Regions from separate parts of the Homo sapiens genome. Here region 1 is linked to region 2. The links come from fine-mapping of genetic effects on gene expression. A gene starts in region 2. The other region holds a variant in brackets. All regions are shown on one strand. Distances are between the middles of the regions. Region 1 overlaps NECTIN2 (nectin cell adhesion molecule 2). Region 2 holds the start of NECTIN2 (nectin cell adhesion molecule 2).

Region 1 (5,000 bases), 27 kb after region 2:
TGCATGCCTATGGTCCTAGCTACTCTGGAGGCCAAGGCGGGAGGATCACTTGAGCCTAGGAGGTGCAGGCTGCAGCAAGCTATGATCACACCACTGCACTCGAGACCAGGTGACAGAGCGGGCCCCTGTCTCTAAAAAATAAATAAAGTAAAATAAAATGGGCAACACTTGGATAGGGCAGTGCAGGCCAGACATTACCCTAAGCCATTTACCTATCAATGTATTATTTAATTCACACAGCAATCCTAGGGGTGGGTACTTTCATTATCCCCATTTTACAAAACAAGAAACAGCTACAGAGTTGCAAAACCACTTATCCCAAGCCAGGCCGCTGATAAGCAGCAGAGCTGGGATTGGAACCCCGGCAGTTAGGGCCTAACCACCCTGCTCCTCTGCTGAGTGTTTGTTGAATGACTGCCGGTGAGGAGTGACGCACCCCCTCTCCTCCTCTCCCCAGCCAAGCCCAAGAACCAAGCTGAGGCCCAGAAGGTCACGTTCAGCCAGGACCCTACGACAGTGGCCCTCTGCATCTCCAAAGAGGGCCGCCCACCTGCCCGGATCTCCTGGCTCTCATCCCTGGACTGGGAAGCCAAAGAGACTCAGGTGTCAGGGACCCTGGCCGGAACTGTCACTGTCACCAGCCGCTTCACCTTGGTGCCCTCGGGCCGAGCAGATGGTGTCACGGTCACCTGCAAAGTGGAGCATGAGAGCTTCGAGGAACCAGCCCTGATACCTGTGACCCTCTCTGTACGCTGTGAGTGTATCGGGGGTGACCCCTCCCCCATCAAAACTGCCTACACTGGCTTCTCTAAAGCACTGTCTACATTGTCTCTGAATGTTGTCTACGTGGGTTCCCTGAAGCCAAATTCTGCACTACCTTCCTGCCATTGTCTACACTGGCTCCCATGGGCAAATCTACATACTTCCCCCTCATTGTCTACATTGGCTTTACTGGGTTCCTGCATGCTGTGCCTAGTCTGTGGTAACCTGGGATGGGCTTGCAAGAGCCAGTTTGATACATTTCTTTCCAATTCCACATCCAATGAAGTCTTCTCGGTAGCTTGAAATCAACCTTGGGGAATATTTACACCAAGGAAATTGGCAAACCCTAGAAATGGGGGCTTCTTTTATTCCCCAGAGAGTTGGTTTACCAGCAAAGAGCTGCCCCCAACAGTGTCTTTTCTGGCTCCCATGGACCCCGGTTGACACTGCCCCTGGACCGTTAGATCAATCATGCTGGGCCATGTCCACATGTCTACATGTCTACACTGCCCAACCTAACATCGTCTCCACACCTTCCCATACTTCTGCCTTGACTTCCCTAGGTGCCATCTATACTGAGTCTCCCAGAGTCTCTACACCGACCCCTGATCCTTGATATTATTTACATTGTATTTATTATTTATTATTTATTATTATATTTTTATATATTATATATTATATAAAATATATAAATTATATATTATATATTAACATATATTTTGTCATTATTTATTATTGTTATTTAATATAATATAATTACATTATATTATATATTACATTACAGGCTCCACCCCCCGGGCCCTGTTGATCCTGACCCCTCCCACTGGGTTTTTTGCTAGCTCTTCCAGAAACTGCCTATACTCACACCTCGTAATGTTACCCAGAGAGGCCACCCTGGCACTCTTCACACAGAATCCCTCAAATACTGGCTTAACCACCTCTTCCACCACTGTCCAAAATGACCACATATCCCAACTCAATGTTGTCTACACTAGCTCCCCAGGCAATGCCTCCACTTACACAGATTCCCTAAGCCAAGTCTACACCAGCTCCCCCAGGCAACATGCATCACGTGCGCCCATAAGTGCAACAGCTCCCCTGAGCCTCGTCTGTGCCACTTTCCTCCCGGGACCTACACTGGTTGCCCAAACCCTGTTTTGACATCCTCCCTCCATGCCAAAAACACACACACAGGCCGGGTGCGGTGGCTCACACCTGCAATCCCAGCACTTTGGGAGGCCAAGGCGGGCAGATCACTTGAGGTCAGGAGTTCGGGACTAGCCTGGGCAACATGGTGAAACCCTGTCTGTACTAAAAATACCAAAATTAGCTGGACGTGGTGGTACATGCCTGTAATCCCAGCCATTTGGGAGGCTGAGGCGGAGGGATGGCTTGAGCCCAGGACGTGGAGTTTGCAGTAAACCAGGATCACCCCACTGCTCTCCATCCTGGGCAACAGAGCAAGATCCTGTCTCAAA[A/C]ACACACACACACACACACACACATTATTTGTAGTGGCTCCCTTAGGCACTGCCAGCACTGAACAATAACTCCCACAAAATTATCCACAGTGGTTTCCCTGAACAGTGTCTACACTGACATCAGCACACAACAGCCTGGACTGATTTGCCCCAGACAGTTTTGACTGCTGTACCTCCTGCCAACCCGCCCCGTTTCTTTAGCATTCCTGTCTATCTGCTAACTTGTCCACCCGCTCTGGGATTCTCCTCCTTGCTGATCCAGTCCCCCCATTTCCCCCAGACCCTCCTGAAGTGTCCATCTCCGGCTATGATGACAACTGGTACCTCGGCCGTACTGATGCCACCCTGAGCTGTGACGTCCGCAGCAACCCAGAGCCCACGGGCTATGACTGGAGCACGTGAGTCACGTGGTCTCAGAACCCTGGGTCTGAGGGAGGCGGGGCTGGGGGCCTGGACTCCTGGATCTAAGGGAGGAGGGGCTGGGGGCCTGGACTCCTGGATCTGAGGGAGGAGGGGCTGGGCCTAAATTCCTAAGTCCTCCAGGATGAAGGGAGCTTGCATTTTGGCAATTTGGGGTCTCCGGGAGTACTTAGGTCCCTGGAGCTTGGCTCCTGGTGGGTGTATCTTTAGGGATGAGGCCTGTGCTCCCCTCTCGACCTTGGTATCCCTCTCACCTGACCCCACACCCCTCCAGGACCTCAGGCACCTTCCCGACCTCCGCAGTGGCCCAGGGCTCCCAGCTGGTCATCCACGCAGTGGACAGTCTGTTCAATACCACCTTCGTCTGCACAGTCACCAATGCCGTGGGCATGGGCCGCGCTGAGCAGGTCATCTTTGTCCGAGGTGAGTGGGTCTTGGGGGCCGTGTGTGGAGACCTGGGTCCGCTCCCCTGGAGTTCTGCCCTTCAGGACTTGGGGCTGCACTGGGGGAGGCTGCGCCGCCGACCTGGGAGGGATGCAGACCTGCCTGGCTGAGGGGAGATGAGGGTTGGCCTTCCCCTCGTGGCCTCAGACTGGGGTCTGGATTTGGGGTGTCGGGGTAGGTGAAGGCAGCAGAGTTGGGGGGTTGAGGACTTTGCTCGGGGTTCCTAGAAAGTAGAGGCCTGGGTAGGGTCCTCACGAATAGACCCGAGGAAGCTGCCCTGGGCTCCAGCTCCTGAGAAAGACGCACACCTAGAGTCAGGCATGCAAACTTCAAAGAGACAGAAACCAAGAGCTCCCACCCCCAGAAACACAATCCGGCCCCAAGGCACGGAGCCAAAGAGGAAAAGCACAAAGCCAGACCATCACCCAGTGATGGAAACTGGGTCAAACTCACAACTGCAGGGCCACACACCTAGAGCGCGGCCGGGACTGTTAACAGAGCCATGCTTCCTGGGACAGAGAGACCCCTGGGTCCTGGAGATAGGGCCAGAGACCCCTCCTGTCAGAGCCACAGCTGGCAGGATCCACAGCCACAGACACTCCCTGTGCTGAGAAATTCTGTTGCAGAGATGCATCAGAATCCAGACACTCACCTGGATGGTAACCCTGCACGCTCAAACCCATTGTCACCAAGACACACACCCAGGAGGACAGTGGCACCAGCCAAGATAGACTGAACGAAGCCAGATGACACCTGGAAAGGGACATTCTTTTTTTTTTTTTTTGAGATGGAGTCTCGCTCTGTCGCCCAGGCTGAAGTGTAGTGGCGCAATCTCAGCTCACCGCAACCTCCGCCTCCCGGGTTCAAGCAATTATCCTGCCTCAGCCTCCTGAGTAGCTGGGACTATATGCGCTCACCACCAAACCCGGCTAAGTTTTGTATTTTTAGTAGAGACAGGGTTTCACCATATTGGTCAGGCTGGTCTCGAACTGCTGACCTCAGGTGATCCACCCGCCTCGGCCTCACGAAGTGCTGGGATTATATGCATGAGCCACTGCGCCTGGCCAGAAAAAGACATTCTTAGAAACACGCCAGGGCGACGGTCCATGCAGCACACCTGTGCAAACACGCAATGTGCAGGCCCCCCAGAAACATGACTGAAGGTGTAGGGACAAACTCCCAGACAGGGGCTGTCCCTGTCATGCAGACAGACTAGCCACGGAGGGACAGAAGCAGACCCCCTTACTGAGTCATAATCTTAGAATGCACACACACTTGCAGGGACACCCGAGGGAAAACAGACACCTCTTCAGGAATCCAGATACAGCCAGGGAGATAGGACACCCCTACGGGAAACACTGTCACAGACAGCAAACCCAGAGAGACAGCTGTCCCGCTCTGGGCTCGCCTGGCGCGTGAGGATGCACATAAGTCCCCGGAGGAAGACGTCACACAGACACGCTGGGGGCAAAACTAATCCAGGACAGCAACGGCTGCACACGGAGGAATGTCATCCCTCACTCACAGACCCTCAGACGGAAAATCAAAGACATCCTGGGAGGAGCTTCTTCCCAGGAACCCTCCCGAAACTCCCCGAAACTCCTCCGAAATTATCCAGAAAGTCCGTTAGGGAGATTCTCATTCAACAAATATGTGTTTCCTGTTTGCTAGGCACTCTTGCTGAGGTTGGGAATACAATGGTGAATGAGCCACAGTCCCTGCCCTCAGTAGCACACCCAGGGGAGGGTCAGCTCCACCCGCCCAGACAGACACCGAACTGGAAATACACCCCTAACCTCTACCCCAGATACACCTGACAAGCTGATCCCCTGCCCACACACCCAGCAGGTGGCTCCAAGGTCAGAGCCTGCAGAACACAGACGCAATAGAGAAAGA
Region 2 (5,443 bases):
TTTTATGTTTTTCAGACTGAGTCTCACTCTGTTGCCCAGGCTGGAGTGCAGTGGTGCGATCTCGGCTCACTGCAACCTCCAACTCCCGGGTTCAAGCGATTCTCCTGCCTCAGCCTCCCAAGTAGAGACAGGGTTTCACCATGTCGGCCAGGCTGGTCTCGAACTCCTGAACTCAAGTGATCCACCCGCCTCAGCCTCCCAAAGTGCTGGGATTACAGGCGTCAGCCAGGGCGCCCCGCCCTGGCTCTGCCATTTTGTAACTCAGTGAGTCACTTCATCTCTCTGCTTCAGTTTCCCTATCGCCCATGGCGCTGCATGGCTTACATGAGATAATATTCGCAGTGCACTTAGATCAGTGCCTGGCACACGGTAAGTGCTGACTACATGTATTAACAGTATCGTAAGTGCCGGGCGCGGTGGCTCACACCTGCAATCCCAGCATTTTGGGAGGCTGAAGCGGGTGGATCAGGAGGTCAGGAGTTTGAGACCAGCCTGACCAACATGGTGAAACCCCGTCTCTACTAAAAATACAAAAATTAGCCGGGCGTGGTGGCGCGCGCCTGTAATCCCAGCTACTCAGGAGGCTGACTCAGGAGAATCGCTTGAACCCAGGAGGCAGAGGTTGCAGTGAGCCGAGATCGCGCCACTGCCCTCCAGCCTGGGCGACAGAGCGAGACTCCGTCTCAAAGAAAAAAAAAAAAAAAGGATCATAACTAAGACTCGAATGCGGAGGGATAACAGCCTCTGCTACTTGAAACCTAGTCCTTCTGGGGAGGAAAGCCCAGGTGTGTGGCAGGTGGAAGGGAGGGCGAGCCTAGGTGGTCCTCTTGCTAGGGCAAGAAGCCCCCAAGCACCTGCCCCCAGCTGAGCAGCTCCGCGCCTCCTGGCCCTGGACGAACTTGGGCCCAGACTGGCGCTCCGTGGCACCCCCTCCCCCGGCCTCCCGCTTCGCGCCCTCATCCCGCCCCCCGGCGCGGCCTCACCAGCTCCCCCTGGGCAGCCCAAAGAATGCGAAGAGGTAGGTGGGGGTAGGGAGGAGGGCGAGCCGCTGGGAGAGACAAAGGGCCCGAGTCTGAGCGAGAGACACAAAGACGCGAGGAGGCTGGGGAGATAGGGGAAGTGGGACAAGGACGCGGGGAGTGACCAGGTCCGGAGGCCGGACTGGAGCCCAGCCCCACCCAGCCCGGCCGGGCCAGCGCAGCGCGGGGGCCGGTCTCTGCTGCCCCCTGGCGGGTGGCTGCGGTGAGAAGGCGGCGCGGAGCAGGTGTTGGGAGGGGAGGACCAGGGCGCGCAGGGAGGTAGGGAGGGAAGGAAGCAGAGAACAGAGCAGGGACAGAGAGACAGCGAGAGAGACTCGCACGCAGAGACAAGAGACGCCGAGAGGGAGACACAGAGAAAGAGACAGGGACAGAGAGACACAGATAGAGACAGAGAGAGACACACGGAGAGACAGAGACAGAGAAGCACAGAGATAGAGAGGCACAGAGATAGAGACAGAGAAACACAGAGACAGAGAGGCACACAGAGACAGAGAGGCACAGAGACAGGCCGATAGAGACAGAGATACACAGAAATAGAGACAGAGACAGAGAGGCACACAGATAGAGACAGAGAGACACAGAGACAGAGTCAAAGGATGGAAAGAGACATGGGGACCAAGTGACCCAGAAACAGTGACAGACAGGCCGGGCTTGGTGGCTCACGCCTGTAATCCCAGCATCTTGGGAGGCCGAGCCGGGAGGATCGCTTGAGGCCAGCCTCAGCAACATAGTGAGACCCCGCCGCCCCCCCGCCCCGTCTCTTTTATTGAAATAAAGAAACAGTGACTGACAAAGGAAGACCAGAAACAGAGCGACACCGAAGCATGAGGACGGAAAGACCCAGAGAGGCAGAAATACAGGGACAGAGAGGAAGACCCAAAGAGAGTGAGAGAGACACAAAGACACGTAAGAGAGACAGAGAAATCCAGAAAGAAACGAGTGCAGCGACACCTAGAGTTCGGGGCAGAGATTAGAAACGCACGAGGGTACGAGAAACAGGCTCAGGGCGATGGGCTCGACCTGCGGGGAGGTCGCACAACCGGGACGTGCTGGGGGCAGAACCGTAAAGCCCCACGTGCCTCAGGCAACTGTGATGAGAGGACCCGGGCAGGCAGGAAAGGGCAGGATTCGAACTGTGGGTGGGACAGAGGCCAGGACGGACTGAGCTAAGAGACCGAGAGAACTCCGGCTAGGGCGAGGGGCGGGGCTGGTGGAGGCGGGGCTGGTGGGGGCGGAGTCGGCCGGAAGGGCCGAAAGGGGCGTGGCAAGACCTTGGCGAGGCGGCCGGTAGGCAGGGGGCGGGGCGTGGGAACTACTCGGGAGCAGAGGGGGCGTGGCTAGACCTTAGGGGGCGTGGTTTAACGCCGGGAGCGAAGGAGACAGAATTCTTTGGCAGGGGCGACCTTAGAATCCTGGGGAGGAGCGAGAATGGAATCCCGGGGAGGAACAGGGGTGGAATCCGGGGGGCGGGGTCAGAACGCCAGGAGGGGGCGGGGCCGGAGCCAGGGTCGGCTTGACTCGGGGGAGCAGCGGGTGGATCCTGTGACGTCAGCGGGTTCGAACCGCCGGAGCTGAGCGAGAGGCCGGGGGTGCCGAGCCGGGCGGGGAGAGCTGGGCCGGGAGAGCAGAACAGGGAGGCTAGAGCGCAGCGGGAACCGGCCCGGAGCCGGAGCCGGAGCCCCACAGGCACCTACTAAACCGCCCAGCCGATCGGCCCCCACAGAGTGGCCCGCGGGCCTCCGGCCGGGCCCAGTCCCCTCCCGGGCCCTCCATGGCCCGGGCCGCTGCCCTCCTGCCGTCGAGATCGCCGCCGACGCCGCTGCTGTGGCCGCTGCTGCTGCTGCTGCTCCTGGAAACCGGTGAGACGAGCGGACGGCCCCCTGCCCTCGCGCGGACCCCCTCCAACCTTACCTTCCGAGCTGGGGAAGCCGAGCACCTTCCCCGCCCACCCCCGGCTCCCCGAGCCCCCTCTCGCGTGCCCCCTTCCTGGCTGGCCCCACAGACTCCGACCCCCTACACGTCCGATTCTCTCGAGGAGACTCTGACCCCTCCTTTCTGCATCTCTCTCACCACCACCCCCATCCTTCTTAATCCAATTGCCCATCCTACGCCTGCTTGTCTGTCCCCCTCCCCATTTCTCGGATTCCCGCGCCGAAAGGGTTAAATCCCAGGAAGGCCTGGTGCCCCCTCCCCACCCCGCGCCGAGTAGTTCACCCGGATCTGGGTCTCTGTCTCCTCTACCCCTCTCAGGAATGTGGGGAATGTTCCCCCCACCTACCGCAGTAAGGTCTCGAGGAAGAGGCGAGACCACCTCCCTCCCCTATTTTTCCTTCTTCCCGGCTTGGGCGTCTGAGGCCCGGAGAGAACTGAGGACAAGCGGACCTGATTCGGGTCCCTTGGAGGGCTAAGGATAAGAGTTCTGGCGACTTAGGGGGAAGGGCCTGAGCTCGGAGCTCCAACCCCGAACCTCAGGGAGTTGGGGGTTCTGACTCCGTGGACTCCAGAAAAATTAGGGGCCGGGGGCTCCGTCTTCAGGGTCCCTGGTAGAATGGAGGCTAGGCGCTAAGTCTAACTGGGATCTAGGTAAAACTGGGGGCGAGAGAGGATCAAACTTGTAGCTTCTGGATTTAATTGTGGGCAGGGGGCTTCGTTTTCAGGGTTCCCGGCAGAACCGGGGGACAGGAGACTCGATCTCGTGGGCTTCAGACTTAATTGTAGGCAGAGGAACGTCTTCTGAGATCCAAACAGAAGTGCGAGCAGCGGGCCCCGTCTCTTGGGCTCCAGATATGATCAAGGGTCGAAGGCTCTGTCTTGAGGCTGGAGTCTCAGTCGCCTGAGTCCCAGATAGAACGGGAGGCCCCGAGTCCCAGAGGCTGGGAGACTCCTCCCTTTCCCTATGAATGGTCGGGGGCGACGGAGACGTCGCCGGGGAAGTTTTCCTGGTTTCACTCTCGCCGAGCCAGGGAGGGGCGGGGCGGGCGCTCCTGGCTCCGGGTTCCGGACTCCCCGGTTTCGGGACCTTATCTATCCTCTGGTAGCGCCTTTGTCCTCAGAGCCATAGCAGGAGGTGGACGAGTGGAGCCGCCGCCCTTATCCCCCGTCCCTCCCATTGCTATGCCTTGGACCCCCTGGCGTCCTTCCATCCACCCCACTAGGGGAGGAGAGCGGCCCCCCTGGGGAGGGAGGGGCTGGGAGGGAACCCTTGAAAGAGGCGCTGGCCCCGCCCCTTGCAGGTGACCCGGTTGTGTATTCCCAGCGACAAACTCTGGGATGCTAGAGTTTCCCGAGGGTTTGCGCAGAAGAGAGCTCAGGGGGATCTTGGGGGAACCCCGGCCACCTCTCTGGCCTCATTTCCCCCAGGATGGCTCTCACTGGCCTCCCAGCTTTGACCCAGAGCTGGGAACTCCGCTTCCATCCCCTGCCTCTCCCTTCAGGCAGAAATAGGCAGATGAGATCAGAACTGGCACCTCTGGGTGAATTCTCCGAACCCACCAGACCCTGAGCCTACTGTTAGCTTGGTGCATGATCTCACCGAAGGCTCCAGCTTGCCCTGGGAAACAGGTCCTGTTTCTGTTTCCATCTTAGAGATGAGGAAACAGGCTCAGCAAAGGCAAGCAGCCTTCTCAAGGTCTCACAGCAGGTCCCGGGGAAGCCGGGCTCCGGTTCTTCAGAGCCCCGCACCGGGTGGGCTCCAGGAAGTGCCTCTGAGTTTCCATTTCCTCCCTCGTAAAAAAACTGAGATAACAATCCTTTCCCTGCGGACCATCCGGAAGGCTCCCAGGCCCCACTGATTCCCTGTGAAACCTCTTAGCCCCTGGAGAAGGAGCTGTCGGCCCCTTTCTTGACCACCCCCACCCCAATCCTTCGCCTCTGCTGTCCACTGGCTGGCCGGCTGGCATGTGCTCGCTCTCCCTCTCTCTCTCTCTCCCCTCCCCCTCCCTGTTTTCCTCCTTCCCTCACTTTCTTTCCCCCTCTTCATCTCTCTTCGTTTCTCACCCTTTCTCTCTCCATCCCTCTCCAAGCTCTTTCTCTCTTCTCCTCTCCCCATCTCTCTCTCTCCTCTCCGTCTTTCTCTGTATACCTGTCTAGCTCCACTGCCTCCCCCGCTTGGCCTCCTCGGGGAATGCGGGTGCACCACCTGGGCCCCCAGCTGGGCCGGCTCCCCTCCCCCAGCTTTCTTCCCTGCCCATCCGTGTGTCCATGTCCGCCAGGCAGCCCCACGTAGTGGAGGGGGAGGGGAGCAGAGGGACGGCAGCCTGGCTGTCTCCTCTCATTAGGGAAGGGGGACTGGGCAGAGGAGAAGTTGGGGGGTGGGTATATAGAGAGGCTGGAGCTACAAGGATGGGTACAGAGGCCAATAGAGGGAAGCGGTCAGACACAGATTTAGGAATGGGGTCAGAGAC

What was found. PIP is the estimated chance that this variant, and not a neighbour inherited with it, causes the effect.
Region 1: its variant is fine-mapped to the expression of NECTIN2 in whole blood (TOPMed, PIP above 0.99).

The regions. Positions count from the first base shown.
Region 1 is chr19:44,871,396-44,876,395 of GRCh38, forward strand. NECTIN2 (nectin cell adhesion molecule 2) reads left to right here. Exons shown (of 9, transcript NM_001042724.2): 3 at 458-754; 4 at 2,521-2,638; 5 at 2,935-3,083. Among named protein-coding and RNA genes, the nearest start is that of TOMM40, 17 kb to the right of the region's middle. The variant A/C (reference allele first, on the strand shown) is at 2,241.
Region 2 is chr19:44,843,715-44,849,157 of GRCh38, forward strand. NECTIN2 (nectin cell adhesion molecule 2) reads left to right here and starts at 2,583. Exons shown (of 9, transcript NM_001042724.2): 1 at 2,583-2,899. The coding sequence starts at 2,812. RefSeq lists silencers at 947-1,346, 2,214-2,263, 2,344-2,423, 2,554-2,653 and an enhancer at 4,293-5,275.